Linked DNA regions of Homo sapiens. The protein of the gene in region 1 purifies or fractionates together with the protein of each later gene. This does not show direct contact. Each region holds a gene or a part of one and is shown in the gene's direction. Other genes may lie near its edges. The genes, in order: IFT80, IFT88, TRAF3IP1, IFT46, IFT25, IFT56 and IFT81.

Region 1 (3,370 bases):
TCAGAGTTAGTTTAATCTATGACCCAATTTTTTCCATGTCTTGCCTCAGAAAGGATAAACATTCCTAAATTAGTGATCTCCAAACTTTGTTAACTGGTAGAATGTGCTTTCCTAAAGAAGTTGCTCATAGAACTCAGGGGCAGAGTCTATTCCTAACAAGTCTAATGAACTTAAGAGAGGAATAGGGCTGGGCTAGGGGAGGGGAGACTGCATAACGGATAGAAGGGAAGCAAACAAATAAAAATGTTTGCACTTTGCAGTTATTCTTTTCATGTGTTTCCCAGTCTTGCTTTCCCTTCGCTTTCTCTAACATCTTTTCCTCATTGTCTTAATGACCACCATGTCTTACTTTAAGAGTTGGTGCAAAGGAGCCACTTTCACAGAATATGCTTAGGGGAAGCTAATGAATCCCTGTCTTTCCTCATAACTAGGCTTCCAGTGGAAACTGCAGTATATAAGATGTGAAGCCTATTTGAAAAATGGCTTGGTAACCAGAGTCCGGTCCACTTTTTCCTCGTTTGGAAGACAGCGGTCCATCTCATCCCCTACCTTGTCCCTGAGCACGTGTACACAATCCTAAGGCTCCATGGGACTGTTTAGATGTACCTTTATAAATAGCTGTGACTAGATTTTGGTCTTTTAAATCACAATGAGAGTCTTTGCTTTTTATTATATAATTCTTATTTTTTGGTCTTATTCTTAAAACTACTTTGTGGTTTTTGAGCATTATTTGTTTTTGTTTTTTTTGAGACAGGGCCCTTGCTCTGTCACCCAGGCTGGAGTGCAATGGTGCAATCACGGCTCACTGCAGCCTTGACCTTGAGGGCTTAGTTGATTCTCCCACCTTAGCCTCCCTAATAGCTGGGACTACAGGTGTGTGCCACCACACCCAGCTACTTTTTTTATTTTTTGTATTTATTTTCCCATCTCGGAACTTTGCCATGTTGCCCAGGATGTTGTCAAACTCCTAGACTCAAGCAATCCACCCACCTCAGCCTTCCATACTATTGGGATTACAGGAGTAAGCCACTATGCCTGGCCAAGCATTATTTCTTCTTCTTAACTTTGATGCTCTCTTTTTCTCTAATCTTTTGATGCTCTCTTTTTCTCTAATCTTTTGGAAGTCACACAGTCTATCTGTTTACTCTTAGTTACTTTGGAGTAAACAAAAATGTCTTACACTATCTAAGCATATTTCTTCTTTTTTTTTTCTATTGCAGCTCCAAATAGATTGGGAGAAAATCAAAGCCAAAATTGAGATGGAAATTACAAAAGAAAGAGAGCAATCATCAAGCAGCCAATCCAGCAAGAGTATAGGTTTAAAGCCCTAAATGCCATGCGTATCTTTAAGAAATTTTATCTTTTGAAACACGTTCTGATTAACCAAGGGTAAGCATGTTTTGGTTGCTAAAGAAAAAAGCATAATCTTTAACCGAGTATAAGTACTTGCTGTGTATTTAGTGTAAAAGTACATGCAGAAAGATGAAACACAAAGTAATTGATGTATTTCTATCTTTTATATTTTTTAGTCCAATAATTAGCAAAATATTACTATGTACTTAAGAGATACCTGTGTAGTGTCGATTATATGTCAGTTTTTTGCCCATTACTTCATCCCTAAATCTTCAGCATGAACAAATATTAATGTCGATAATAAAACATTGGACTCTTTGAAATGTATGTTACCATTAATTTCTATTTGACCTCTAAATTGTAAAATGCCTCCAAAAGTTTATTTATAGAACAAAAATACATGAGGATGGATTTGTACAAATGTATAAAATGCCACTATTTATACACCAAGTTCATAGCAGCATTACTGGAATAGCAAAAGATGGAAACAGCTCAAGTGTCTATCATGAATGGATAAACAAATGTGCTATAATACATACAATGGAATATTATTTAGCTTTAAAAAGGAATGAAATTCTGATAAATACTACCTCAGGATAAACCTTGAAAACACTATGCTAAGTGAAATAAGCCAGACACAAAAGGCCAAATATGATGCCACTTTTATGAGGTACCAGCATAGGCAAGTTCACAGAAACAGAAAGGAGAATAGTGGTTGCCAGGGACTGCAGGGAGGAGGAAATGGGGGGTGGGGTTATTGTTTAACGAGTACATAGTTTCTGTTTGGGATGAACAAATTCTGGAAATGGATAGCGATGATGGTTGCTCAACATTTTGAATGTTAATGCCACTAAATTGTACCCATAAAAATGGTTAAAATGGTAAATTTTGTTATGTATATTTTATCATAATTTAAAAAATATATCTAGAATGGGCAAGAAGGATTCTCCTCATTCCTCTCTTGACTTGAGAATGATCAGTCAATAGGCCCTGAAGTCTGAATTTGTGAAAATTTCCTTGGGTGACAAACTTGTTTGATTACTCTATTTAGTGTATCCCAAAGTTATTACCACATAATCTTTTAAACAATAAAACAAATACCCCTTAGAAAGTCTTCTGCAAACCCATTTCTGAAAATGGTACATTATAGGGTGGGTATAGATGCATAGATATGGGATTATGTATGATATATATATATATACACACACACACAAAGGGATAGAGAGATTACCTCTCTTAACCCCCATTTTAATTACTATGTCTAGGTTTTTTAAATAAAAATCTTTTCTTTTTAACATGTTTCTTTTCTTTTCCGGAATATTGGAATATTCTGTTCTTGATCCAGATGAAATCTGATTGAGCAGTGTACTTACAAGTTGTACTGTGTATGTGTTTCCTATATTGTTATATTTCAATAAGAAGCTTAAAATGTTTAAAAATAAATGGTTAAAAGGTTTTATGTTATGTATATTTTACCACAATAAATGCAAAAAATAAAAAGTCTGTGTTCTAAACAATTCTCTCATATCCTAGAATTCAATCCAATTCTAACACTAACTACCTAGAATTAGAAACAGATCCCACAAGTTAAAGGGCAAGGTTCCCAAAAAGACTGCCTTTATTTATTTATTTGTTTATTTATTTTTTGAGACAGGGTCTGGCTCTGTCACCCAGGCTGGAGTGCAGTGGCCCCATCACAGCTCACTGCAACCTCCGTCTCCCGGGTTCAAGCAATTCTAGTGCCTCAGCCTCCTAAGTAGCTGGGATTACAAGTGCCCACCACCACACCCAGCTAATTTTTGTATTTTTAGTAGAGACAAGGTTTCACCATGTTGGCCAGGCTGGTCTCAAACTCCTGAATTCCTGACCTCTAGTGATCCGTGCTCCTCGGTCTCCCGAGGTGCTGGGATTACAGGCATGAGCCACCGCACCTGCCCTAAGACTGCCCTTATTTTAGACTCCAGCCACAATCAGAGTCCCCAGGCTACTCACACTTGTGTCTGACTTGGCTGCACAT
Region 2 (4,282 bases), on another chromosome or scaffold:
TGTGTTCTGAAGAACACCAAGCTGAAAATTTGATTTAAAGTGGACTTCAGTTGGTGAGGCTACAAGGTGCCTACAAGAAATAAACTTAAATCCTCCTTGGAGGAATGCACTTTTAAGTTCCAAAGAATAAGAACCTACAGTTAAGAAAAAGTATGCATGCATGAGGAAATAAGTCACTAAGAGTAAGCAACAACAGAAACTATAGAGTCCAATCTTCAAAGACTACAAATATTGTAATTATTATTTATTTATATTAGAGATGGGGTCTTGCTGTATCACCCAGGCTGAGTGCAGTGGTGCTGTCATAGCTCATTGCAGCATTGGACTTCAGGGCTCAAGTGATCCTCCCATCTCATCCCCACAAGCAGCTGGGATAATAGGTGCATGCCACTCTGCCCAGCCAAGTTTTATTTTTTATATAAGCACTTTATTTTTATTTAATTAATTAATTTATTTATTTATTGAGACAGAATCTCACCCTGTAGCCCAGGCTGGAATGCAGTGGCACGATCTGGCTCACTGTAGCCTCTGCCTCCCAGGCTCAAGCAATTCTTCTGCCTCAGCCTCCTGAGTAGCTGGGATTACAGGTGTGCACCACCACGCCCGGCTAATTTTTGTATTTTTAGTAGAGACGGGGTTTCACCATGTTGCTCAGTCTGGCCCCGAGCTCCTGACCTCGTGATCTGCCTGCCTTGGCCTCCCAAAGTGCTGGGATTACAGGCGTGAGTCACCGTGCCCGGCCCCAGGTTTTATTTTTTAAAGGTTTGCTTTTTCCACAAAATTTGAATCTTTCAGGCTAGGAATTTGGATTTGGATTTCAGAAGGGTTTTGGGTGCCTGAGGGAGCTATCAGGGTTTTGTTGGTAATTTACATCTGTGTAAAAAGTGAAATAACGTTGTCGTATTTACTAATGAGGATGTGTTTCTGACATTCCACAGTATTCCTCAGTGAGCAGTTCTGTGAGGCATTTCCATCTTATCTCTGTAATGAGAACACCTACATTTTTGTGGAGACATTGGTTGTCATATCTTATGTACCCATGAGTCAAAGAACTGTGTATGCCCTTGCCCTTCGTTGACTGCAAACCCTAAGGCAAGAAGGCCTGTTTGGACCACTCCCTGCCAACTTTGTTTTATGTTTCTCACCCAAACTTTTCTTCTCACATACTCATTCATCTTTTAAAAGATTGCTATATAGTTATTGTGTATATATTTGGTGGCTTATCTTAAACCTTTTTGGAGACAGGTAGGATATACATTATTCAGAAAAAAAAAAGTAAAAGAAATATCCCTAGAGCAATGTTTTTCAAACTTTATTGACTTGAGCTCACTCAGGCAGTTTAAAAGACACCCGTATACATTTCTGCATGGAAAAAATTAACTTTTGTTTTAACAAAAAGAGAGGGACAAAATAATGTAAAATATACTAAAGTGTGTAGACATATTCAGTACACTAAAGAGCTTTATTTTCCCGTAACATCAGTGGTAGGGGAAATGGTAAGGTTTTGGATAAGAACCTTAGAGAAGACTTACTATTTTGGGTCAGTTGGCCAATCTTAAAATGTGGGGATTTTAAAGACCATCTTGTTCTGATTTATTCCCAGAGACATTATCAGTAAACTAAAAGACAAACTATATTCAAAAACGAAATGGTCAGTGTGTTTATCAGTGGACTACTCTCATTAAAAGTGAGGCTTACATAATAGAAAAAATATCACTCTAGGAATTCTAAGGGGAAGAAAGGAAAACTGTGGGGCTAGAGGAGTACTTTTAGAAAATATCACAGAAATTTCTGGTTAAAAAGTACTACTAACATTTCCTACTAATGTTAGTGTTCAGTTTTATCTGAAAATCCTCAGTGATACATATTACATTTTTTCCTAAGGCAGCCATTGCCTATTTGGGCAATTATAAGAGTCAGGGTGATCTCTTACTTTCTCTTAAGTTCTTCCATAAAATTGAAACCTATAAGTAAGCACACATTTGAAAGAATACATATACAGACTACTCTTAAGTGATGTTTTATCTATATTATAGATTCCCACAAGATATTTCTTTTAAATTTCAGAAAACAAGAATTATATCCCTAAGAAGCTGGCTTCCAAATTAAACAACCTGCTTGTTTCTTGGCAAATAAGTATGCTTTAAGATGCATAATGTAGTTTTATGTTTTCTCAACATATTAAACAAATGCATTTTTATTTTCGTGTTTTCAGATAGTGGCCAGAACTATAGTGCCAGTAGTAAAGGTGAACGACTAAGTGCCAGACTCAGAGCTTTACCTGGGACAAATGAACCTTATGAAAGTAGCAGTAACAAAGAAATAGGCAAGTACTCTCCACCCAGTTCCTCCAGGCATAGCAGGTCTGAAGAAGAATGGTGAGATGGCCAAAAGGTGTTGCTGGGAATTCTTAAGAATTTGATATTTACAGATAAAATTTAAAATGACTTGGGAGACCATTTCTGTTCACTCTGAGTTATTCATTTTGACTATGAGCCTGATTGGTTTCACATTTGTTTTGTTTGTTTACATAACTCTAACGTGACAATCTCTTCGAAACCTAGATGCCTCCTATGTGGACCCACTTGGCCCTCAAATAGAACGACCAAAAACTGCAGCCAAGAAAAGGATCGATGAGGATGATTTTGCTGATGAAGAATTAGGAGATGATTTGCTTCCAGAATAATATTCACTTTAATATTTATTAAAGGAAAGAAATTGCCTTATGAGATCATCCTCATGTTAAACCTTGGATTAAATATCTAACCTGTAATTATTTTTTTTCACTGTCAAAACTTAAGTAAGTGTATTCTATTCTGTATGTATGCATTTAAGTTGTTTTTTTCTTTTAAGGAATAAAAACAGGTAAAACTAATACTTTAGGCCAGTGACTTCCTTAGCTTTTTGAAAACATTGACACACAGGAAGAAATAAATTTCATAACACAACCTAGTACATATATGTGTATGTAGTCATAAAAATTTACCCTTATTATTGCAATACATGCTAATATTTTCTATAGTTTCATTCAAACAAAGTGCTAGTAGTGAAGCCACTACATTGATTTCATGGCTTGCAGATTGAAAAATGCTGTGTGGACATAGGCACAATTTCTATTCATACTTAAATTGCTTGGAGTTTGGAAATTCTTTGGAAGATTTGCCTTGTGGGGATTAGAAACACTATTAAAACAATTATGTTTTGGAAGCAGTATAAAGGGTAATGGGATTAAATACCAAACCATAACCCTAGTGCTCCTTTCCGAAGTTCCTTTCTACTTCAGCCCGGGGGTGTGCACCAATAGCACAGAGCAGTAACAACTCTAAGATGGCTTTTCCCATTTGTGACTTAGTGGGTTGGGGGCAGGACTGCCTGCATTTTTCTTTAACAATGTGTTTGGCTGGTCTAGAGTCTCCAGAGGAATTATAATGACGAGGATGTCAGAAGCAGTGGCTTATCTCTAACACTATACCAAAGAGAATGGACCCCTCAATCTTACTTACCATTGTCTCTGCAACGTGCATGCTACTGTTAGATGCGAGGGAGGAAAACCAAAACTAGACCACATTCCTTGCTCCCAAAGTAGGTTATGCTCTAATTGATGAGACAGCCAACAAATACAGTAAACATCCAGTATGTGCAGAGAATTCATTAAAATTTGGGGGATACAGTAGTGAAAAAGAACTATACCTTGCCCTCAAGAAGCTTAAATTCTGGTGGGGAGATGGAAAATATATTTTGTTTGTTTGTTTGGGTTTTTTTTGAGATGGAATCTCACTCTGTCGCCCAGGCTGGAGTGCAGTGGTGCAATGTTGGCTCACTGTAACGTCCACCTCCTGGTTTCAAGCAATGCTCCTGCCTCAGCCTCCTGAGTTGCTGGGATTACAGGCACGCACCACCACACCTGGCTAATTTTTGTATTTTTAGTCAGACGGGGTTTCACCATGTTGGCCAGGCTGGTCTCGAATTCTTGACCTCATGATCCACCCACCTTGGCCTCCCAGAGCTGGGATTACAGGCATGAGCCAGCGTGCCTGGCCAGAAAATATGTTTTTAAAGGACTCTAGATATTGTTAATTACAGTTAAGAGAACAAAATGGAGTAATGCAATAGGTAGTGATTATAGAGGAGGGACTCTAAGAGGTGGCCTTGGTAATAACACTAGAATGGTGAGAAGAAAGCAGTGTTCTGAGCAGAAGGAGCAGCAAGTGCCGCACACTGAAAAATGAATGATCTGGATGTGTCACAGGGTTATTGAGCTACAGTGATAGTGAGAGGGTTT
Region 3 (4,994 bases), on another chromosome or scaffold:
AATGCCAAAGTTGATTTCTCTCCCTGTGTAAAGATAAATAAATTATGACCTACTTGATAAAGTTGTTAGAATGACTGACATATTGGAAAGGATTTTCAGATAATAGGTGGAGAGCCTCTTATGAAAATGCTTTACTGTACTGAATATTATACACACATTGCTATATTAGTATTTTAGCTATAGCTACACTAACCACCCCGTTTCATTAAGCTAAGTGTGGATACTGTGACGTTAATGTCTCTTGTCACTTACAGTTATTGTTCACAATTTTTTTTTTTTTTTTAGAGGGATTCTTGCTCTGTCGCCCAGGCTGGAGTGCAGTGACACAGTCTCCACTCACTGCAACTTACGCCTCCCAGGTTCAAGCAATTCTCCTGTTTCAGCCTTCTGAGTAGCTGGGACTGCAGGCACATGCCACCATGTCCAGCTAATTTTTCTATTTTTAGTAGAGATGGGGTTTCGCCATGTTGTCCGGCCTGATCTCGAACTCCTGACCTCAGGTGATCCGCCTGCCTCGGCCTCCCAAAGTGCCGAGATTACAGGTGTGAGCTACTGTACCCAGCCTATTGCTCACAATTTTAACTGCCAGCATCCTGGGAAAACCTCAACAGGGACAAAATGAAAATGTTCCAGGAATGTTAAATGCAGGATGCTCTTAATATTCTACCTGTCATCTCAAGAAAAACAGTAGCATAGCTCTTACATAGTGTGGTGTGGAATGAAAACTCCTAGATTCATTAATACCTAACTTGATGCAAATTAAGGAGTTGTGGCTTGATTCCAGAGGAGGCTCTCATTAGGGTGGGACTGTCTTGTTTTTAAAACATGTCTTCCCGTAATAAATATGCTTTATTAGCTGACCTAGGATATGTGGCTATGAGCATACCTGTCCTTACCACATACCATGCAGCCTGCTGGTAAGGGTCCCAGCTATTCAAAATGCTTGTTGCTACAAATTGTATTGATTTTACAGTAACCTACCACATTTCAAAAAACTGCAGTCTGAGACAACCCAGGACCCTGGCTGGGTGTGGTGGTTGAGAGGAACAGGAAAAATAATTGCCCTAAAAGCTGGTTTTAGGGCTAATTAGGAGGTACAGGTTACCTGAGGGAAGGGATGATTAGGGAGAGAACCAAAGCAGTGAGGTGTGGAGCCTGCCACCATCTTAAGAAGTGAGTAGTGACACGTGGTGAGGAGAAAGACCCTTGCAGAACTTCTAGTCTTAGCAAACTAGGTTGAGAAATTCCTTTTCTTTTCTTTCTTTTTTTTTGAGGCAGAGTCTCACTGCGTTGCCCAGGCTGGAGTCCTGTGGCATGATTCTGACTCACTCCAACCTCCACCTCCCGGGTTCAAACAATTCTGTTGCCTCAGCCTCCTGAGTAGCTGGGATTACAGACGCCCACCACCATGCCTGGCTAATTTTTGTATTTTTAGTAGAGACGGGGTTTCACCTTGTTGGCCAGGCTGGTCTTGAACTGCTGACCTCAAGTGATCCACCCACCTCGGCCTCCCAAAGTGCTGGGATTACAGGTGTAAGCCACTGTGCCCAGCCAAAGTTCCTTTTCTTTTTGGAATCTGTTCCCTCCATTGCACCTGAAGGACTCTTGTAAAATGCCGTTCCAGGTCCTCCTCGTGGTCCTTCAGCTCAGTTCATGTCCCTGAGTGGCTTCACAGGGCCTCTGCACCAGGCCCCGAGTGTCTCTCTGGCCTCAGGCTCCTGCTGTCCTACATTTCTTTTGATCCCTTGCAGGGGACTCTGTGGGTCCTGGACCTTGTGTGGACTTTCATTTTCTTTTTTTCTTTTTTTTGAGACGGAGTCTGGCTCTGTCGCCAGGCTGGAGTGCAGTGGTACGATCTCGGCTCACTGCAATCTCTGTTTCCTGCTTCAAGTGATTCTCCTGCCTCAGCCTCCCCAGTAGTTGGGACTATAGGCGAGCACCACCACACCCAGCTAATTTTTGTATTTTTAGTGGAGACAGGGTTTCACCATGTTGGCCAGGATGGTCTCGATCTTCTGACCTTGTGATTTGTCCGCCTCAGCCTCCCAAAGTGCTGGGATTACAGGTGTGAGCCACCACACCCAGCCGTGTGGACTTTCTTATGTTTGGCATGTGCATCCGAAATGTCCCCTTGCCCAACTCTTCTGTAAGCCTGGTCCCCATCTAGGTATGATTCCTCCAGGAAGGGTTCCCTGCCACTCCTGCTCCCTCCCGGATTGTGGATTAGGTACCAAGCCTGAGTGCTTCCTTAGTACCTGCATGGTGTCATCTTTACCTGTCTGTCCACACAGCCAGACTAAGTTCTGAGAGGATCTGGCTGGCTTCTGCCCTGCACAGCACGTGTAGTAGACATCAAATATTTCTTAAGTGGATGATTCAAATCTGGGCTGCTAGTCAATTCTGACATCTCCCAAGTGTGGAGTTGAGTGGATGAGGCTGATGAGGAGGCTGTCTGTGAGGTGACATGGTGGCCTTTCTTTCTCTCTTGAAGGTGATTAGAATGACTGGTTTCATGAAGGGCCTCTACACAGACGCCGAGATGAAGTCTGATAATGTGAAGGTGGGTTTGAGTCGGGCTTCTCCTATTGACTCCTCGCCTTAACGGATGGGATTTTTTGTAGGCCTGGTAGTGTGGCTTGTGTCATTTCTCTGCTGCATGTGGTTGGAATACAAGGTCAGTGAATTCGTAAATTGATATATATACCCTTTCTCATTTCATTTTCTCATTGTGGCAACTGGATGTCATGCTAGTTTTATTCACTGAAAAATGGGATTAGTATTTCAAAGGTTAATGCTAGCCCATCAACTAAATTAAAGGCTTTAATGAATTGTTTTTGTTTTGTCAGTAAAAGGTCAGTATTTCTAGATTTGTTATATATCTAAAAACAGCTTTGTATGTAAACAGAAACTATCCTATGCCTGGTAAACATACAGAAGATAATGCACACTCTTCAAAGTATTGTAATATTTGTATTTTCAATGGAAATGTTTCAGGATAAAGATGCAAAAATTAGCTTCCTACAAAAGGCCATAGACGTGGTTGTAATGGTGTCGGGAGAGCCACTGTTGGCCAAACCAGCCCGAATCGTGGCGGGGCATGAGCCTGAAAGAACAAACGAGCTGCTCCAGATAATTGGAAAATGCTGTCTCAACAAGGTACTACTGCTGTCCTGGCATTTTGAACTTACTTAGTACTTGAGTAAAAAGTAGTCGGGGGTGAGGGACTCACATGTGCGGGCGGTTTAGGGAAGGAGTTTCAGTGGTGTCTGTCAAACACTGTGCTTTGAATCTGATCCCACCCCTTCTGGAGCCCCAGAGATACAGAAGGAGTAATTTAATACTGAATGATAAAACAAATAAGGGTATGTAATACGCAAGTTCTGCAAGCTTTCAGTAGAAAGTCGGGAACCCTGCAGGCACACTGTGCCTGGCTGGAGGCTGGAGGCTGCAGGCCCAGGCTTCCATGCCCTCTGGCTTTCTCCTTTCTGAGGCTCCCTTGAGGACAGGTGGCTGCTTCCAGCCAGGGCTGCAGTGGCTGCAGGAGCTGCTTTTCTTCTTCCCTGGGTCTTATGGGAGTCTCTGTTCTCTTCCTCCATCTCCAGCCTCTGGTGTCTGCTTGCCTGTTGCCCTTCCTCTCTCTCTTCCACCTTTTCTCTCTCTCTCGGTTGCTGTTTCAGTTGTACGGGGAGTAGATTTTTTCTTTCTTGAGCTTTTCACTGTGGGCTAGAAACTTGGGTGTCAAGGCCTCAGGCTTCTCTAGTTAGGTCCAGCCTGGGCCATGTTTGCCCAAATGTTGGAGAAGGTCTTTCCCCAGGGTCTTCCTTCTTTTGAGGGCCGAGTAGTGCCCTGTGGAGGAGCAGGTTGGACTTGTATTGAGAGTGTAATTAATACAGTTTTTCACATACCTAGTGGGTGGTTGGCTGGGGGCTAACCTTAAATGTGACCCAAATGGGAACAGGTAGGTTTCAGCCCCCTCAACAGCAGTGGGTAGTGGAGGTGCATAGTGGTATCAGGCCGACTCCTAGGAGGCCCCCCCAGTGCAGGTCCAGCATGCAAACTTAGAGACTTGGAAGCAGATCTTGCCAGTACACTGGCCTCTGTCCCTAGGCTCCCCAGCTCCCCTTCCCGGGTCCTTTATGTTTCTCATCTTTCTAAAAAGCACATCTGGCTCCTGTCTCCTCTGCTGAATCATCTCCGGCTTCCAGTAGCCTCGGGTCTGGGCCAGCTCCATGGCACAGCTTGTGAGGCTCCTAGAGACCTGCTGCTACTTCTCTCCCTTCAGATCCTTCTCTCGTTTCCCATATCTGAGCCCTCCATTCCAGTCGCCACGCACCCCTGCATTCGGCCCTGGCCGGCTGTCTCCCGTCGGCCTCTTGCCCTGGTGCCTGCTGGCTTCTTGGTACCTGAGCTGCCTTCCTCCTCCAGCCTCACCCAGCAACAATGTGGCGTCTGTGAGTGCTTCCTTGAGCCTGGGCCTCTCCTCCCTCCCAGGCTGACTTAGGTGCCCCTGTAGGCTTCCTATAGGCTGTTGTTTAATTGTTGTGTTTATCTGTGTCCCCAGTACACGGTGTGTCTTTGGCCTAAATGGAGCCTGGCACGCGGCAATCACGCAGCATGTGCTTGTGGAATGAGTGCGTGAGTCAGTGGGACTCCTGACTGAGGTGTCCTGCACTCTGGATGGCTGTCGGGGATGCTGGAGAAGGAATTTTTGCGTTTGATGGGGCTTGAATCAGATCAGTGGTTTTTTACCCATAATTTTATTATTGTGTTAAAGTCCATAAAACATAAAATTTGCCATCTTAACCATGTTGAAGTGTACACTTCAGTGCTGGTAAATTCATTCATCTGCAGCCATCACCACCTTCCATCTCCAGGACTCTTCTCCTTGCAAAACAGACTCTGTCCCCATGAAACACTAACTTCCTCTTCTCCCGTACCCCAGCCCCTGGCACCCTCCATTCTACTTTCTGTCTCTATGAATCTGACTACTCTAG
Region 4 (3,939 bases), on another chromosome or scaffold:
GAAGTCAGGAGATCGAGACCATCCTGGCTAACATGGTGAAACCCCGTCTCTACTAAAAATACAAAAAATTAGCCGGGCGCTGTGGCGGGCGCCTATAGTCCCAGCTACTTGGGAGGCTGAGGCAGGAGAATGGCGTGAACCCGGGAGACGGAGATTGTAGTGAGCCAAGATAGCGCCACTACACTCCAGCCTGGGCGAAAGAGTGAGACTCTGTCTCAAAAAAAAAAAAAAAAAAAAGAAAAGAAAAGAAAAGTAAAAGGAGCTGGACACGGTGGCTCATGCCTGTAATCCCAGCACTTTGGGAGGCTGAGGCAGGTGGATCACCTGAGGTCTGGAGTTTGAGACCAGCCTGGCCAACATGGTGAGACCCCTGTCTCTATTGAAAACACAAAAAAATTAGCCGGGCCTGGTGGCGCACATCTGTAATCCCAGCTACTCAGGAGGCTGAGACAGGAGAATTGCTTGAATCCAGGAAGTGGAGGTTGCAGAGAGCCAAGATCATGCCACTGCACTCCAGTCTGGGCAACAGAGCAAGACTCCGTCTCAAAAAAGAATTTTTTTAAAGTATCAAAACAGAAAAGGAAACTGAACAAAGATGACCAACAGGTCCTTCCTAGCCATCATGTTTAAACTGCTGCACCAGCTCCCCAGCATTCCCCGCCCTCTGTCCCTGCTTTTTCTTGATAACACTTATCTTCTAACATACCATAGACTTTATTTACTTATTTTGTTCTTCCCTACTAAAATGTAAGCTCTACAAAGACAGATTTTTTTTGTATATGAAGAATTGATTGTAAACACACAGAATTTGGAAACAGTCTCTTTCCTCAGAGCATTTTGAAGCTGTAGTTGAGGGGAAGGTGTCTGATTAGGGGATTGAATAGCTAGGTTGCAGTACATCCATTCAGTGAAATACTATGCAATGGAATATTATTTGGCCTTATTTTGCTCTAATATGAAGAAATATCAGTGATATGTTGTTAAATGAAAAAAGCAAATTGCAGCAAGTTGCAGAACTATATGTACTCTGTTTTTTGTAAAAAGAGAAAAGTTTTAAGAAACCAGTAGTTTAAAAACTTCACACTGTGACTTGTTTAGATCCAGAGCCTGTTACCTGAGTTAGATGTCATGCCCATTTTCTCTGTTCATATGGTGTCCTGGAATCATTAGGCATTATAACACCAAGTAATGCATATATAACTGTTAATACTTGCCCATAACTTGGTATCAGTTTCTTTTTCACAGATTCCCACAGGAAAAGAGTATGGCAGTGTATTTTACCTATAAAACATATGACCAATTCCATACTGATCGGGGGAAAAAATAGCATGTTGTATTATTTTGCTAGGCTGCCATAACAAAGTACCATAGACTGAGTGGCTTAGACATCAGAAATGTATTATTTCATAGTTCTGGAGGCTAGTAGTCCAGTAGTAGTCCAAGATCAATTTGTTGGCATGGTTGATTCCCTCCCTCCCTTCCTTCCTTTTTTTTTACAGGGTATTACTCTATGCCCAGGCTGGAGTGCAGTAGCTCAATCTCAGCTCACTGCAGCCTCAACCTGCTGGACTCAAGCAGTCCTCCCACCCCAGCCTCCCAAGTAGCTGGGACTACAGATACTCAACACCACACCCGGCTAATTTTTTTGTAGAGATGGAATTTCACCATGTTGCCCAGGCTGGTCTCGAACTCCTAGGCTCAGGCGATCTGCCCACCTCAACCTCCCACAGTGCTGGTATTACAGGCGTGAAGCCACCACGCCCCACCAAGATTGATTTCTTCTGAGGGGTCTCTTCTTGGCCATCTTCTGTGTCTTCCCATGGTCTTCCCTCTGTTATGCGTCTTTGTCCTGATTTCTTCTTCCTATAAGGACACCAGTCATACTGGATTAAGGCCCACCCTAATGACCTTGTTTTAATTTAATTATCTCTTTAAAGATGTTATCTCCAAATATAGTCACATTCTGAAGTACAGGGAGTTAGGAACTCAATATCTGAATTTTAGGGGAACACATTTCAGCCCATAACCTGTGTCTTATGCTAGAAGCTCTTTTGCTTCAGAGAGAGAGAGTGGTTCTGGGACCACTGACACCATCCTTTTGACTTTGGTCCTTCCATGCCCCTTCCAGGTAAGCCTGCCCACGGCAGAGATTGATTGCAGCCTGGCAGAGTACATTGACATGATCTGTGGTGAGTTCCTCTTTCCTTTCCTCGTCCCCATCTCTGGATAGAGACACTCTAGGCTTTTGGACAGGCTTGTTTACTCTGGGAAGATAGTATCTTGAGTTTCAGCCTTCACTTTAAGCCCGTTGTGCTCTTTGGCAGCACTCAAAGGTGGTGTTTGGCTTATGTGACTACCTGCTGGGTATTTAACCCCCAAAGTCATAGCGACACCCCATCTGCCAGGGCTTTGCCTGTGCTAGACAGAAGGGCCTCTAATTCCCGGAGTTTGTTTGCTTCTGTTCCTGGAAGTTCTTCTTCGTTTCAGCCATTCTAGACATCCCTGTCTACAAGAGTCGGATCCAGTCCCTCCATCTGCTCTTTTCCCTCTACTCAGAATTCAAGAACTCACAGGTGAGCCAAGCATCAGGGGTTGACTTAAGCTGTAGAGAGGATCACTATAGTTTCTACTGTTCTGAGCCTGCTGTGATTGCATCCTATAGCGATGTAGGATGTCTCTGCCCAGTTACCTTCGCCCTTTCCCATAATTAGGAGAGCAAAGGAGGCAGGGATGGAGTTTTCAAGGGGAAAGTGGAGGAAAAAAAAGGGTGGGTGGAAGTAGGAGTTGTGGGCCTTAGATGAAATCAGGTGAGGATCTACAGAGGACACTCGTTCTTTCAGAACCAAGTTCCCTCATGAATGGAAGCAGGAAGGAAATAAAGGGGGTTCATTTTAAAGAAATTAATTCTTGTTAAAATATAGCAATTAGCATATCCCTAATACTCAATATTCCCTCTCCTCTTCCTTGCAGCATTTTAAAGCTCTCGCTGAAGGCAAGAAAGCATTCACTCCTTCATCCAATTCCACCTCCCAAGCTGGAGACATGGAGACATTAACCTTCAGCTGAGACACTTCCCAAGCTGCTGTTTCAAGGCTGAGCTGGCCCCTCTGCCCCAGCTGAGATGGACAGATCGTTGTCAGCTACTTGATGTCCTTGCCCATGCCACAGCTTGGCTCAGGGGCAGTGCATGTCCTGCTGCCCTCTCTGCCAGAGGGCACAGAACATGTTTGTTTAATGAACCTGCCTGCCTCAGATTGCTGTCCCCGGGGAGTTAATGCATCTACACCACTGTGGGGATTTGAGTTATAAGAATTGGAATTTCTGAGATCCCATGGAGGTTAGATTGGGAGGAAAGCTTAAAAGATGTCCTTTTTGTGAGAGGGATGGAATTGTTTTCTTTCATTCGTAAAGTTAGTGAGTAAAGATTTTATAAATCAAATGCTCTATTATATTGTCAGATTATTCTGCTATTTAATATGAAAGAGAAAAGGCTGACTGAGCATAACGCAGAGACACAGGAACTTTGCTTAGTAATGGGCATTAAATGAAGAGTAGTTAAAGCAAACAAATTTTGTGAAATAAAATGAAACCCCAATCCTCCAAGATTGGCAGTCGAGGGGAATCATTTTTCCTCTGGAATTTAATTTTTCTAAGGGTCTCTCTTCAGTTAATGCCGCCTTCCTGAGGCTGTCTGGCTCCAGACCTGTCTGGTTCTGGTCTCAGGGAGCGTAGCTATTGCGGTAATCCAGGTGAGAGGTGATTGGGGTGGCAGTAGTAGAGATGGACAGATTCAGTAAATATTTTGGAGTTATGTCAGCCAAGCTCCAGTCAGGAAGTCTGAAACCATGCTAGTTATTTCTAACAAAGGGTGTTTAGCCAGGCACAGTGGCTCACGCCTGTAATCCCAGAACTTTGGGAGGCCCAGGCAGGCAGATCATG
Region 5 (4,994 bases), on another chromosome or scaffold:
CGGATCACGAGGTCAGGAGATCGAGACCATCCTGGCTAACATGGTGAAACCCCGTATCTACTAAAAATAAAAAAAATTAGCCAGGCGTGGTGGCGCATGCCTGTAGTCCCAGTTACTCGGGAGGCTGAGGCAGGAGAATGGCATGAACCCGGGAGGCGGAGCTTGCAGTGAGCCAAGATTGTGCACTGCGCTCCAGCCTGGGCGACAGAGTGAGACTCCGCCTCAAAAAAAAAAAAAAAAAAGAGAAAAAGGAAGAGAGGATAATCCTAAGTGTATATGGACCTAATAATAGTTCTTTAAACTACATAAAGCAAAATCTGACAGATGAAAGGGAGAAATAGACAAATTCACAGTTATAGTTAGAGATTTTAATACCCTTTTCTCAGTAATGATAGAACAATTTGGCAGAAAATCAATAAAGACATAGATGATCTGAATAATGTCATAACCTTGACTTTGTTGACGGTTATAGAACACTATAATCAACAACATGGAACAAGAATGTATTGATGGGTTGTGTATGGTGGCTCACGCCTGTAATCCCAGCACTTTGGGAGGCCATGGCAGGCGGATTGCCCGAGCTCAGGAGTGTGAGACCAGCCTGGACAACATGACAAAACCCCATCTCTACGAAAAAACACAAAAATTAGCCAGTCATGGTGGCGTGTACCTGTAGTCCCAGCTCCTTTTGGAGCTGAGGCATGAGGATGGCTTGAGCCCAGGACGTCAATGCTGCAGTGAGCCAAGATTGTGCCACTGCACTGCAGTCTGGGTGACAGAGCGAGACTCTGTCTCTTAAAACCCAGCATATTGAACATTCACTGAAATGTGCTGAAACATAAAATAAGTCTCAATATATTTCAAGATTAAAATCTTAGATAGTATGTTCTCTGACCACTGTGTAATTAAATTAGAAATAAACAACAAAAAGATATTCAGAAAACCCCCCAAAACTTAGAAATTAAACACTGCACTTCTAAATAACCCATGGGTCAAAAAAGAAATCAGAAGGGATCTTAGAAAATCTTTCTTTTTTTTTTTTTTGAGATGGAGTTTCCCTCTGTCATCCAGGCTGGAGTGCAGTGGTGCAATCTCAGCTCATGGCAACTTCTGCCTCCTGGGCCTCAGCCTCCCAAGTAGCTGAGACTACCGGCATGTGCCACCACACCTGGCTGATTTTTGTGTTTTTAGTAGAGACGGGGTTTCACCATGTTGGTCGGGCTGGTCTTGAACTGCTGACCTCAGGTGAGCACCCTCCTTAGCCTCCCAGAGTGCTGGGATTACAGGAGTGAGCCACCATGCCTGGCCTTAGAAAGTATTTCTAACAGAATGACGTTGAAAATGTAACATACCAAATTTGTAGGATGCAGCTAAAGCAGTGTCTCAAGGGAAAGTAATAGCATATATACTTATGTTAAAAAGGAAAAAAATGTAAAACCAATAATCTAAATTTTCACCTTAGGAAGCTAGAAAAAAATGAGCAAATTAAACCCAAAGTAAATAGAAGAAAATAAATAGTAAAGGTGAGAGCAGAAATCAACAAAATAGACAATTATTAGAAAAAATAATAAAGCCTAAAGTTGATTATTTGTAAGGATTAATAAAAGTTATAAACCTCTAACAAGATTAGCCAAGAAATAAAGAAAATGCAATTTATTAGAACCAGGAATGAAAGTAATATCACTACAGATTCTAAAGGAATCATATATAAAGAACAAATTTAAGCTAATACATTTGACAACTTAGATGAAATGGACAGATTTCTTGTAAAGCTCGACCTATAAAAATAACACAAGATCAATTGGAAATTCTGGACAGCCTCATATCTATTATGGAAATTAAATTCGGTCAAATATTTAGGGAAGAAATACCAGTCTTCCACAAACTTTCTCAAAAATAGAGAAGGAAACATTTCCCAAATTGTTTTATGAGAACAACATTATCCTGATAGCAAAGCCTGACAAAGACATGACAAGAAAGAAAATGGAGCGCAAAATAGTACAACCACTTTGGAAAGCTGACAGTTTCTTATAAAGTTAAATATACTTTTACCCTATGTCCCAGCAATTCCACTCTTAGTAATTACCCAGAGAAATGAAAACATGTTCACAAGCACTTGTACAAGAATACTTAGAGCAGCTTTGTTCCTAATAGTAAAAAGCTGCAAGCAATTAAAATACCCAACAAAAATATCAAACAAAATCACGAATGGAAACATTGTAGCATAGTTGGTGGTGATAGAAATCAGAGCACTGGTTGCCTAAGGGAGGTAGGGATTGTCTGGAAGGAAAGATAAGGGAAATTCTGGAGTCACGGAAATGTTCTGTATTTTCATTGGAGTATTGGTTACATAAGCGTATACATTTATCAAAACTCACTAAGTTATGCCCTTAAGGTAAATTCCACTGTAGGTAAATTTTACTTCCAAAAAAAGAAAAGCTTATATAGTTAAAATAGAAATGATTATTTCTGTAGTCAAAACCATAATATATACTATTTTGCCTATATATGACTTAAAATTGAGTGCATGTTTTAATTTTTGTTTGAACAAACATTTAGCATGTGTCTACTATGGGTGAGCCATTGTAGCAGTTGTAGGGTTACAAAGGTGAGTAAGAGAAAGAAACTGGACTCAGAGCTCAGCATCTAGTGGGAGCCATAGAAACACAGGAGATTAAGTGCCAATGTAGAGATGGAGGCTGAGTATGAGATAAGTGCAAAAGAGGGAGGAAGTGATTCTGATTTGGTGGGGTTAGATAAATGGGACCAGAAAGTGAATGAACTTATGCAAGGGGAAGAACGGTTTTTCAGGTAAAAAAAAAACCTCATGAATGAACTAAGGTACAGAAGCAAGAGCCTGCCTAACATATTTGCAGAATTTTAAGTGGCCCAGTGTGACCACAGTGATGGAAGAGACTATAACTTAATGGTGGAACCAGATCCTACAGTCTTAAATGCCATACGAAGGAGTTTAGAATTATAGGCAATAAAGGGACCACTGAGGCATTTAGATAGAAGTGACATCAATTCCGTTTCTGTGTTTTAGAAAAGAATACCTGGTAGTAGTAAAGAAGAATTATTAAAGTTGGAGAGAGATTAGAGGCAGAATTAACAGAAAGGAGATGTGAGAATCCAGTAGTCATTTAATTTTAAAAAACAGGTATTCAATAAAATTTTATGATTAACCATTTATATTTGGCTATTCTTATTTTTTCTTTAAAATTAACAATAGGAATCCAGAAACGTTTTGGACCACCACAGGAATGTTTCCCCAGGAATTCATTATTTGTTTCCACAAACATGTAAGGATTGAAAGGCTTGTAATCCAAAGTTACTTTGGTAAGCAAATCTTACATTAATTTTTTTTTTTTTTTTTTGGTGCTCCAGGTAAGGCTAATATTTTAGTTTTCATTATCCTTTCATTTTTTCCACAGGCAGAAGGCATATATGTAAACTTTTGGCAAAACACTAGTTTTTCTTTATAGCATGGAATCCAGTTTTATTGCTGGGGTGAAAGGATGGGGATTATGAGGTAAATGCCTTGAGCTCAGTTGGCCTCTCTCAAACTGCAAATTCGAAACCCTTCCAAAGCACATAATAATTTCCATGCAATTTACTATGTAAAAGTCTTTGGCAAAAGGCCCTATTAGGAACATAAGACTCCAGCTTGCTAGAACACTATTCCATGACATCTTTATTCTAGATTCATTTGTCCTGGAGTTATTTGTCAAATTCTTGTTGAAAATCTGATAACTCTGATTATTTACATTGGATAGTTGAGATTCTTCTATTACTAGTGGCATTTTCTCAGGAATTTAGGGGGATAATCTCCCTTGGGACATCATTCTAATCCTATTTATTTAAAGATAAAATGTATCAGACAAAATCATGGCGGGAAACAGAATACATCCCAGATGGTTCAAATGAAGAGGCTCTATTGATGGGGCTACTTGCAAAATTATGGCCTGGGTTAAGGGAACAAACAAGGCAAGGAATGATGAGGCCCTCAGAAACTAGCTATAGCAGGAAGCTGTAACTAGCCCTGGCACAGGGAAGGAAATAGTGTTATCAGAGATCTGTGAGAGCTGAAGCCTGTGTAAAAGGGCCTAATAGGAGCTGTAGGCAGGAGAAACTGTCAAAGATGTCACACTGAAGCAGGGAGGGAGTGGAGATAAAATTGGCTGATCTCCCTTCCCCACCCCAGTCTCCCCCTGGTGTCTCCCACTGGCCAAATCCAATCCAATCAGAAGCCAGTGGGTAAATGAATCCAGGTGATAGAGTCCACAGAGGTTAGCCCCTCATGGCACAGAACAGGACAAAGAAGAGGAGGAATGGATCTGGAGTGGTAGAGACTGGACTGGAGCAGTGGAGAAAAACCAGTTTAGAAGGAAGATGACTGTATTCCTGATAAGTCTCTTCTCTCATTAATCGTGGAGGTTCTAGAGTCATACCTAAAGTTTGAATTCCATTTCTGGCACTTATGAGCTGTATATCATTGAACACCTTGCTTGGCTCCTCTAAACCTGTTTTCTCACCAGTAAAGTGGGTTAAAGTACCTTTCTCATAAGATTGTAGTCAAAAGTGAATGGATAAATATGTTTGACTCATCATAGGCTCTCCATAAATGTTTATGACCAAGACCACCAATAGTAGTATTATCGCCATACACACAAAAAAATCGGAACAATGCCAAATTCAGAAAAGCTCTACTTGCTCTGTGTTGTATGGTTGCGAACATTTGGAAGATTAGTTACACAAGACTATATTTTACCATAGGGTTTTTTGGAAACATACAGAGTAACTTCCATGTTGTTTCTGATCCCAGTGCTCTGTGTAGTTCCACTGTGCATGATAATCTCAGGCAGAGGGAAAAAGAAATATAGGGACAAAAACATACAGCCAGATTAACACTTTACTTACTTTGTTTACAATGTTAGTACAGACCTTGAAGATTGAAAAAAGCACGTCTAAAGAGCCAGTTGATTTTGAGCAAT
Region 6 (4,994 bases), on another chromosome or scaffold:
CCTTTTTTTGGATTGATTTTTAAAACTATATATTTATCCTCGATTTGCTTGCTAGTTATGTACATTGGGAATATTATTTTAGCAGTTACCATATCATGTGTATTTTGCATATTAAAAAGTTTGATATTGATTAGTACTTTTACCAATTTCTAGAAAAATTAAAGGACCTTAGATCATTTAAACTCATTTACTCTCCATCTTATGTGCAAATTTGAAAAATATTTTAAGTGTCTATATGTTTCTAATCCCATAAGACTGTTTTATTACTGTTTTATGCAGTTAATATTCATTTATAATTAGCCATATTTTTCCTTTCCATTGCTCTTCATTTCTTCTTGCATGTTTGTGCTCCTATCTGAAATCATTTTCCATTTGAGGAATTTCCTTTAATATTTCCTTTAGTGGTGATGAATTCTCTCAGTTTTTGTCTAAACATATTTTTATTTGACTATGGTTTTTTAAAGGATTTTTTTCTCAGTGTAGAGTTCTAGGTAGGTAATTATTTTTGCTTAGCATTTTGAAGATGTTGCTTTATTGCTTCCTAGGTCCTTGTCTCTACTGAGATGTTAGCCATCAGTCTAATTGTTGCTCCTATGAAGATTTTTTTTCTGATCATGTTTAAGATTTATACATTGGTTTTTGTTATTAGCACTTTTCCTATAATATTCCCAGATATGGTTTTCTTTGTATTACACTACATCAGGTTCATAGTGCTTGCTCGAGGTCTTTTCTTTTTTTAATTAAAAGAATCCTTGGTCATTGTTACTTCAAATTTTGCTTCTGCTCTATACTCTCTTCTTTCCTTCTAGGCTCCCAGTAATATGTATGTATGTATGTATGTAGACCTTTTGTTTGTATCGCATGTAAACACTTTGTCACATTTTCTGTATATTTCCACAGAAATTTATTTTACTAATCATCATTCTTCAGCTGTGTCTAACCAGCTATTCCATTTATCTATTTCGTTCTTAATTTCAGTTATTGTATTTATTTTTAGAATTTACATTTTATTACTTTTTAAATTTCTAATTTCCAGTTAAAATTTCCTAATTTTTAATTTAATTTCTTAAATATATTGATAATAAGTTATTTTTAAAGTCCATGTCTAGTAATTCCAATAGTGTATCTCTGGACAGCTGTTTCCTGGTTTTCAGTCAAATGTTCTTATCTCCTGGTTTGCTTGGCAATATTGTGTTTAATGCTGGCTATTGTATATTAAAATATAGAGAGATAATTCGAGTCTCTGGATGCTTTTGTCTTCTTCCAGAGAGGATTTAGAATTTACTTTTACTTCTGGCAGGCACATAGAAAAGGGGCAAATCAACTGATACCTGTCAGAGATTGCAACAATTTAAAGCTGGTCTATTTCCATTTTACCTCTGTTTCTAGGGTAGCTTTCCAGGGGTCCCAACTGATAGCTTGGTGGGCCCCAATCTCTATTTTTTTGTCCATTAAGCCCATAAGACTTCTTGAAGCTCGCTTAGTTTTCAGCAACTCAGCCACCAATTGAGAATTGATAGGTACCATTAGAGAAAAAAATGGTACTAAATATCAGAATCACCTCTTTGCACTTCTGTTCTGCTTGGGATCTTGGTATCTCAAGTCTTCACTCACTTGGTAGCTCTCTGAACCCTTCACGTAGATTTTTTTTGTTTGTTTTTTTGAGACAGGATATCACTCCCCGTCACCCAGGCTGGAGTGCAATGGCGCCATCTCAGCTCACTGTAACCTCTGCCTCCCAGGCTTGAGCAATCCTTGTGCCTCAGCCTCCCAAGTAGCTGAGATTACAAGTGTGCACTGCCATGCCCAGCCAATTTTTGTAGAGACAGGGTATTACCATGTTGCCCAGGCTGGTCTCAAACTCCTGAGCTCAAGTGATCTGCTCACCTCAGCCTCTCAAAGTGCTGGGATTATAGGCGTGAGCCACTGCCCCTGCCCCTTTTACACAGATTTTTCAGTAGTTTTTAAGATTTTCTAGATGTTCTTGGTGGGAGCACTGCATACTACAAGCTACTCTAATATTATTAGTAGTGAAAGTCTTTGATTGAATTTAAAGAAATATATTTTATTGTGTTTTTCTTCTGATTACAAAAATAATACATGTTCATCATAGTACTTTTAGAAAATAGCAAATTGCATACACACAAAAATCAAGATTTCCTGTAAGACTGCCACTTAGAGCTAACACTGTAATATTTTACTCTCTTTTCTTCCAGTCTTTAAAAAATTTGTATTTTTATATGTGTATATATGTGTATATTTATATTGCCAAATTTGTATCATAGTATATATTCTGTTTTATAACCAGGCTTTTCACTTAAAAATGTATCATGAACATTTTTCCATGTAACTAGATAGTCTACAGAAGACAATTCTTTACAAAATTTTTAAGCTAATAAGTCATTCTCTGTAACAGGCAGGAGTGAGCAATCTACATATTAAGGGTCACTGTCAAAAATATATCTGTTCTGCCCCATATATAAGCAAAAGGCAGCTAATATTTGCGGCAGCCATCTAACAAAATAAGCATTACAAGGTTGGAATAGAATTCTGACAATCTCAAACAACAACAATATATAGTAACTGAAGAAAGGATGAAAAAATGTAGAGCAGGAAATTAAAAATTGAATACACTAGGTTACATGATGAGAAATACATTTTGATTCCCTATTGTCTACCAAGAAGAACGAGATATGAAAGAACAGATTGGCTGGGCACAGTGGTTCACACCTGTAATCCCAGCACTTTGGGAGGCTGAGGTGGGCGGATCACGACGTCAGGAGTTCAAGACCAGCCTGGCCAACATGGTGAAACCCCATCTCTACCAAAGATACAAAAAATTAGCCGGGCGTGGTGGCATGCGCCTGTAATCCCAGGAACTTGGGAGGCTGAGGCTGGAGAATTGCTTGAACCTGGGAGGCAGAGGTTGCAGTGAGCCGAGATCGTGCCATTGCACTCCAGCCTGGGGGACAGGGCAAGACTCCGTTTCAAAAAAAAAAAAAAAAAAGAAGAAAGAAAGAACAGATTAAAAATGTTACCAGGTAATAGTAAAGAGAGTAGACAGAAAAAGAAAAGGAAAGGGAGAAAATATAAAGAAAAAGAAAAGATAAGGGGAAGGGTCAAATAGTATTAACTGTAACCTAAGGGCTTTCCATTGTCGTTGTCAAGCTATGCCTCCAGAGGCTATTTCCATTGTTTCTTTGCAGGAGAAATGAAGTAGAAGACAAAGAACCTAAGGGAAATAGGAAGAAGAGAGAGACACAATGGCTAAAGAAGGAAGAGTTAAAATCTCTATCACATAGATATTGATTTCTCTAACAACACTAATATGAATCTTTACATGTCTTTTCCACTCTCACAATTTTAGTTTAATGATGAGAAAAAATTGATGAGCTTTCATCAAAATCTTCAGGATGTCACAGAAGATCAACTCAGTTTGGCCTCAATCCACTATATGCGATCTCACTACCAAGAAGCTATAGATATATATAAGCGAATACTGCTAGATAACAGGTCTGTGTCCTTTTATGCCCACTCTCCATTCCTTTCATTTTGTTAGTTTCTTCTTTAACTAGTTTGAGAATCTAGTGTCCTCTGGATCTAGTACCACTATGTGTTCAAATCTGTTTAGTTGATAATTTGGTGAGATTAAGAATTAGATATTGTCTAAATCAGGCTTTCTCTACCTTTTTTTGCATTGTCACCCTTCTAAAAGACTTTTTCCCCCAATTGCCCTCCCATGAAATTTTAATATACTGATAGATGTATATTAATATATATCCATATATGTACTATATGTATAACTGTGCTTTACATATAAAATGATTATGATTTTTTCATCCTCCCATTAAGAACCAATTTTTCCCCTTTGGGGGTAATACTGATATTACCCCAGTTGAAATGTATGGTCTAGATGTATCAAACTTAGTGTTATAGTTACATCGTAGGTAACTTGCTGACAAAATTAGATACAAATCATTCTTAAGAATTTACATTCCAACTTTAAACACTTGGCCTCTCTCTCCCTTCCCAAAAATATCTCATCCCCCTTCTTTCCATCCTCTTTTGCATTACCTTCTTAGTCTCCTACCTGCTTCCATTTCCAGCCATCAAGCCTATGTGTCTTGTCTGTTGGTCTTCTGTGTGGAGTGTGCTTGTGTTTATGTTCAATTATTGCATATATTAGTTTTTCAGTGTGAACAGCGTGAACTTTCCCTTTCTTCTCTAGTCATCTTTCATTCTACTTATATCAAAACACCCAAATATTGCAATGCAAAAAGAAAAAAATTATACTGATCATATCTTGCCCTCTTTCTTCATAAGGCAGGTTCATGAACTGTCCTCTTTGCCTTGTCCATTTGAGCTTTGTAATTTGACATTTCCGTGAAGTAGACTTAAATGGTTAACCCTAATTCTTTCATCTAATAGGGAATACCTTGCCCTTAATGTTTATGTGGCCCTCTGCTACTACAAGTTGGATTACTATGATGTGTCTCAAGAAGTTTTGGCTGTTTACCTTCAGCAAATTCCTGATAGTACCATCGCACTCAATCTTAAAGCCTGTAACCATTTTCGCCTTTACAATGGCAGAGCAGCTGAGGTATTGATGGAAGTGTGTTTTTAATGTACTTCATTCCAATTTGAATTACTTTATACTTTCCAAGTTATTCATGAAACTCTGTTATCTGTAACTCTTGATTAATATCCCTTTATCATTGCCACTGTGATTCTATAAGAACCTAATTATATGTTTATCAGGTATTCTAAAAAGAATGTTGACTTCTGAATTATCTGTGTTATGTCCATTAAATTGTAGATGATTTTACTGAGATGCCCTACATTTAAAACCAAATGCTTATGTTTAAAACCAAATGCTTCTGGCCGGGCGCTGTGGCTCAGCACTTTGGGAGGCCAAGGCGGGCAGATCACTTGAGGCCAGGAGTTTGAGACCAGCCTAGCCAACATGGCCCCATCTCTACTAAAAATACAAAAAA
Region 7 (4,994 bases), on another chromosome or scaffold:
CACGAACCACCATGCCCGGCTAATTTTTTGTTGTTGTTGTTGTTTTTGTTGTTGTTGTTTTGTTTTTTGTTTTTTTTTGAGACAGAGTCTCGTTCTGTTGCCCAGGCTGGAGTGCAGTAGCGTGATCTCGGCTCACTACAACCTCCGCTTCCCGAGTTCAAGCGATTCTCCTGCCTCAGCCTCCTGAGTAGCTGGGATTACAGGCACGCGCCACCACGCCTGGCTAATTTTTGTATTTGTAGTAGAGACAGGGTTTCACCGTGTTGGTCATGCTGGTCTCAAACTCCTGACCTTGTGATCCACCCATCTCAGCCTCCCAAAGTGCTGGGATTACAGGCATGAGCCACCGCACCAGGACTTGTTTTGTTTTTTGAGACGGAGTCTTGCTCTGTTGCCTAGACTGGAGTGCAGTGGTGAGATCTCAGCTCCCTGCAACCTCTGCCTCCCGGGTTCAAGCCATTCTCCTGCCTCAGCCTCCCAAGTAGCTGGGACTACAGATATGTGCCACCATGCCTGGCCAATTTTTTTATTTTTAGTAGAGACGGGGTTTTGCCATTTGTCCAGGCTGGTCTTGAACTCCTGACCTCAGGTGATCTGCCCGCCTCAGCCTCCCAAAGTGCTGGGATTACAGGTGTGAGCCACTGTGCTTGGCCTGATTATACCATTTTTGTTCCCTAGAATTAAAATGCTAGGTCAGGTGCAGTGCCTTTTTTTTTTTTTTTTTTTTTTTGACGGAACTTGCTCTGTTGCCCAGGCTGGAGTGCAGTGGCACAATCTCAGCTCACTGCAACCTCCACCTTCTGGGTTCAAGCGATTCTTCTACCTCAGCCTCTCGACTAGCTGGGATTACAGGCGCACACCACTATGCCTAATTTTTTTTTTTTTTTTTTTTTTTACACGGAGTCTCACACTGTCACCTAGGCTGGAGTTCAGTGACATGATCACAGCTCACTGCAGCCTCCATCTCCCAGGCTCAAGTGATCCTCCACCTGAGCTTCCCAAGTAGCTGGGACTACAAGGTGCATGCCACCAGTTCTGGCCAATTTTTGAATTTTTTGTACAGACAGGGTCTGGCCATGTTGCCCAGCATGGTCTTGACCTCCCAGATTCAAGAGATCTGCCTGCCTCCGTCCACCTCAGTCTCCCAAAGTGCAGGGATTACAGGTGTGAGCCATTGCACTCAGCCTAATTGAAATGTTTTGACTTGCTAATTCTTTAGTGTGCTTACTATGTGGTTAATAGCCACTACAATTAAATACATAATTCTGACTGTTTTGGTTTTTTTTGTTTTTTTTTTTTTGAGATGGAGTGTAGCTCTGTTGCCCAGGCTGGAGTACAGTGGCGTGATCCCGGCTCACTGCAACCTCTGCCTCCTGGATTCAAGTGAATTCTGCCTCAGCCTCCCCAGTAGCTGGAATTACAGGCACCTGCCACCATGCCCAGCTAATTTTTGTATTTTTAGTAGAGATGGGGTTTCACTGTGTTGGCCAGGCTAGTCTCTAACTCCTGACCTTGTGATCCACCCACCTCAGCCTCCCAAAGTGCTGGGATTACAGGTGTGAGCCACCGCGCCCAGGCCTGACTGTTTTATTCTTTTAATTTACTTAGAAAAATTAAATGTCCAAGTCAGATCTGGCTAAAATTTTGTTTTGTTTTGTTTTGTTTTGTTTTTGAGATGGAGTCTCACTCTGTCACCCAGGCTGGAGTCCAGTGGTGCGATCTCGGCTCACTGCAACCTCCACCTCCTGGGTTCAAGTGATTCTCCTGTCTCAGCCCCTGGAGTAGCCAGGACTACAGGTGCATGCCACCAAGCCCAGCTAATTTTTTGTATTTTTAGTAGAGACGGGGTTTCACCATGTTGGCCAGGCTGGTCTCGACCTCCTGACCTCAGATGATGCACCCGCCTCAGCCTCCCAAAGTGCTTCAATTACAGATGTGAGCCACCGTGCCCGGCCTAATCTGGCTAAAATTTAATGTCACAGAATTAGGGTTAGGGTTAGAGAGAACTCTAATCTTTCAAAGGATGGATACACTGAAAACCATGGTTTTTGTTTTGATATGTTGAGGAACTATATGCTTCTGTCAGATTTATTCAGTTTTATTACATTTTGGAAAGATTTAGATTAATGATTAGGATAAATGATAGTTATCGAAGAATCACAGATTATTAGCACAGGAAGGGTGTTATCCCTGTCAACTGTCAGCTGGGTTCATGAATCATTGTAATAAATCCCTGGTGCATATTTGTTCACATTTGCTTTATCACTTTCAGTGACTTGAAGTCACAACGTAGGTGAGGGGATAACTTCAGATTTTTAGAAAGCATCTTTGTGGTAATGTATAAATATTTCATGTAAAATACTTTAGGATAATTTAGACATAGATGATTAAATCTATATAAGTAATCAAACTGTGTAATTATATGTCATGAAATGTAAATTGTTTCTAAAGGTAATCATAACAAGCTCCCCATAACATTAATGAAACTGTTTTGCCCATCAGAGACTTAATGTTAAGAACTGTAAATTCCAGATGGGTGCCATGGCTCACGTCTGTAATCCCAGCACTTTGGGAGGCCAAGGTGGGAGGATCACTTGAGCCCAGGAATTCAAAATCAGTCTGGGCAACATAGCAAGACCCCATCTCTTAAAAAAAAAATTAGTCTAGGTGAAACTGAGACCTTGTCTTTAAAAAAAAAGAACCATAAATTCAAAGCTGGTTTGGCCAGACGTCACTTAGTTTGTGTACTTATAGGGAAAGTTTTAACTTTTTTTTTTTGCTTTCATGCTATTTTAGATAAATGAAATAAACACAGAAATTAACCAGTTGATTGAAAAGAAAATGATGAGAAATGAGCCCATTGAAGGCAAACTCTCACTGTATAGGCAACAGGTAAGAACATTCTTTTGGCTCACATATTTAGATCTGTAAGCATATTCATGAACCACTGGCTGTGTTATCTATAGTCTTAAAGTGAGAAGGAAGTAGAGAATAAATGTTGTTCTGTCACTGCTAATCTCCATAGTATATCAAAGAATTAGTGGAAAAGCCACAAAAGATGCTTATTCAAGTTTGAAATTACGATACCCCTAATAATGCTTAGTTTCCTTAGCATGTACGAACTGTGGTAATAGAGCTATTTGTGTTTGTATCTGTGACTGTGGAATTTATTTTTAAAATGAAAACTTACCTTAGGTGGTATAAATAAAAATATTTATAATTTTTAATGAGTTAATAACAGTATGCTTTTTCAAGTTTAAAGTTAGTTTGCAAGTGTAGAATAAATTAAATTTTAGTGCTAAAGCATTTATTATTTTATCCACAACTAAATTGTCACTTAGTTTTTGAGGGTACTTATCTTGTTGTATATTTCTATAAAAGATTCAAATGAAGGCCATGGCTTATCTGAAAAGAACCAAGGCAGGAGGATTTTAGTGTGAAGAGCACTCTACAACCTCAGAAAATACTAAGCTACATAACAAAGCATTATTTAAGGACATTAGAATTTTTTAAAACCTTTATAACGGAAAATTTCAATCAATTACAAAGGTAGAGGCAAATTGTTCAATAAACCCTCATGTGTCCCTGAGCTACAGGGCTCATGGCCATTCTTGTTTCCTCTATACTGCCAACCCCAACTATATTATTTTGAAGCATATCTTAGACTTCATCATAACATTTCATCTATAAATGTTTCAGAATATATATCTAAAAGATAAAGGCTTTTTAACTTAACCACAACATACCACATCTGAAAATTTTAATAATTCCTTAATATCAGAAAATATTCAGTCAGCCAGGAAATCAATGACATTCCCTTGTCTCTCTTTTTTTCAATTAAGATCCATATAGGATTCATATATTGCATTTGGCTGATAAGTTATTTATTTATTTATTTATTTTTTGCTGTCACCTATCTGTCCCAGAAAGTTTGTCTCTTTTAATCCATATGTTCTCTTCCCATCGATTTATCTATTTAGTGCTTTTTGGCAATATATGTGTTGACAAAACTGGTTCATTTTTCCCATGATATTTCTAACAGTTTGTGTTTTACTGATTGCAACCCTATGGTGTTGTTTTACCATGTTCATTTGTTTCCCGTATTTCCTATAAATTAGAACTAGGAGCTTGAACAGATCTGGTTTGATTTTTTTTTGGCAAGAAAACTTTCTAGGTGGTATTACATACTTTTATTTGGAAGTGATAATGCTCGGTTGTCTGAGCAGCCACTTACTATTATTGCTCATTGCTTATCCATTAATTTTATTATAAATTATAAAATATTCATATTTTGATTCCTTCTTCATTTATTAGCTGGACTACTTTTTTTTTTTCTTTTGAGATGGAGTCTCACTGTCACCCAGGCTAGAGTGCAGTGGTGCGATCTCGGCTCACTGCAACCTCCGCCTCCCAGGTTCAAGCAATTCCCTGCTTCATCCTCCTGAGTAGCTGGGATTACAGGTGCCCACCACCATGCCTGGCTAATTTTTGTATATTTAGTAGAGACAGGGTTTCACCATCTTGGCCAGGCTGGTCTTGAACTCCTGACCTCATGATCCACCCGCCTTGGCCTCCCAAAGTGCTGGGATTACAGGTGTGAGCCACCGTGCCTGGCCCTGGACTACTTTTATAAAGAGAAAACCTCTCATCAACTATTTGGTTATCCTGAGTTATAGTTCATATAGGATAGGCAGGGTACATGCTTTGTTTTTATCATTATTTATCAGTTTTCATAATGAATTTGTTTCCTCTAACTCATTTGCATCCTCCAACAGTGAAGTGATCAATTAGGGCTATTTTTTGTTGTTTTTTGTTTATTTAATCTCATTATGAATCCTAGACATTATAAGTTTTAAACAGTATCCTTAATGATGCTCAAATTGTCCCAGTTTTGGCTAATGGGAGGCTTTTCAAGTTAACTTTTGACTTCTTTTCAGATTCTAGTGGTCTTTGATAATTTCCTTGCTTTCTGCATTATTTAAGTCATTTCTAGG

Evidence for each region.
Region 2: the proteins of IFT80 (region 1) and IFT88 purify together in Homo sapiens (affinity purification with mass spectrometry; 2 studies listed by BioGRID and IntAct, with this or other methods). This does not show direct contact.
Region 3: the proteins of IFT80 (region 1) and TRAF3IP1 purify together in Homo sapiens (affinity purification with mass spectrometry; one large-scale study listed by BioGRID and IntAct). This does not show direct contact.
Region 4: the proteins of IFT80 (region 1) and IFT46 purify together in Homo sapiens (affinity purification with mass spectrometry; 2 studies listed by BioGRID and IntAct, with this or other methods). This does not show direct contact.
Region 5: the proteins of IFT80 (region 1) and IFT25 purify together in Homo sapiens (affinity purification with mass spectrometry; 2 studies listed by BioGRID and IntAct, with this or other methods). This does not show direct contact.
Region 6: the proteins of IFT80 (region 1) and IFT56 purify together in Homo sapiens (affinity purification with mass spectrometry; one large-scale study listed by BioGRID and IntAct). This does not show direct contact.
Region 7: the proteins of IFT80 (region 1) and IFT81 purify together in Homo sapiens (affinity purification with mass spectrometry; one large-scale study listed by BioGRID and IntAct). This does not show direct contact.

Annotation. Positions count from the first base shown.
Region 1 is NC_000003.12:160,256,486-160,259,855, reverse strand, and holds the end of IFT80 (intraflagellar transport protein 80 homolog), read left to right. Parts: intron 1-1,220; coding exon 1,221-1,331; 3' UTR 1,332-2,870; downstream 2,871-3,370.
Region 2 is NC_000013.11:20,688,490-20,692,771, forward strand, and holds the end of IFT88 (intraflagellar transport protein 88 homolog), read left to right. Parts: intron 1-2,215; coding exon 2,216-2,326; intron 2,327-2,564; coding exon 2,565-2,686; 3' UTR 2,687-2,955; downstream 2,956-4,282. UniProt on the Homo sapiens protein: Positively regulates primary cilium biogenesis. Also involved in autophagy since it is required for trafficking of ATG16L and the expansion of the autophagic compartment.
Region 3 is NC_000002.12:238,322,815-238,327,808, forward strand, and holds part of TRAF3IP1 (TRAF3-interacting protein 1), read left to right. Parts: intron 1-2,491; coding exon 2,492-2,560; intron 2,561-2,994; coding exon 2,995-3,156; intron 3,157-4,994.
Region 4 is NC_000011.10:118,544,043-118,547,981, reverse strand, and holds the end of IFT46 (intraflagellar transport protein 46 homolog), read left to right. Parts: intron 1-695; exon of another isoform or gene 696-1,834; coding exon of another isoform or gene 1,835-1,863; intron 1,864-2,128; coding exon 2,129-2,189; intron 2,190-2,487; coding exon 2,488-2,573; intron 2,574-2,970; coding exon 2,971-3,066; 3' UTR 3,067-3,439; downstream 3,440-3,939. UniProt on the Homo sapiens protein: Forms part of a complex involved in intraflagellar transport (IFT), the bi-directional movement of particles required for the assembly, maintenance and functioning of primary cilia. May play a role in chondrocyte maturation and skeletogenesis.
Region 5 is NC_000001.11:53,928,384-53,933,377, reverse strand, and holds part of IFT25 (intraflagellar transport protein 25 homolog), read left to right. Parts: intron 1-3,232; coding exon 3,233-3,339; intron 3,340-3,434; exon of another isoform or gene 3,435-3,532; intron 3,533-4,937; coding exon 4,938-4,994. UniProt on the Homo sapiens protein: Component of the IFT complex B required for sonic hedgehog/SHH signaling.
Region 6 is NC_000007.14:139,143,778-139,148,771, forward strand, and holds part of IFT56 (intraflagellar transport protein 56), read left to right. Parts: intron 1-3,206; exon of another isoform or gene 3,207-3,367; coding exon 3,368-3,513; intron 3,514-4,428; coding exon 4,429-4,600; intron 4,601-4,994. UniProt on the Homo sapiens protein: Component of the intraflagellar transport (IFT) complex B required for transport of proteins in the motile cilium.
Region 7 is NC_000012.12:110,144,157-110,149,150, forward strand, and holds part of IFT81 (intraflagellar transport protein 81 homolog), read left to right. Parts: intron 1-2,796; coding exon 2,797-2,892; intron 2,893-4,994. UniProt on the Homo sapiens protein: Component of the intraflagellar transport (IFT) complex B: together with IFT74, forms a tubulin-binding module that specifically mediates transport of tubulin within the cilium. Binds tubulin via its CH (calponin-homology)-like region.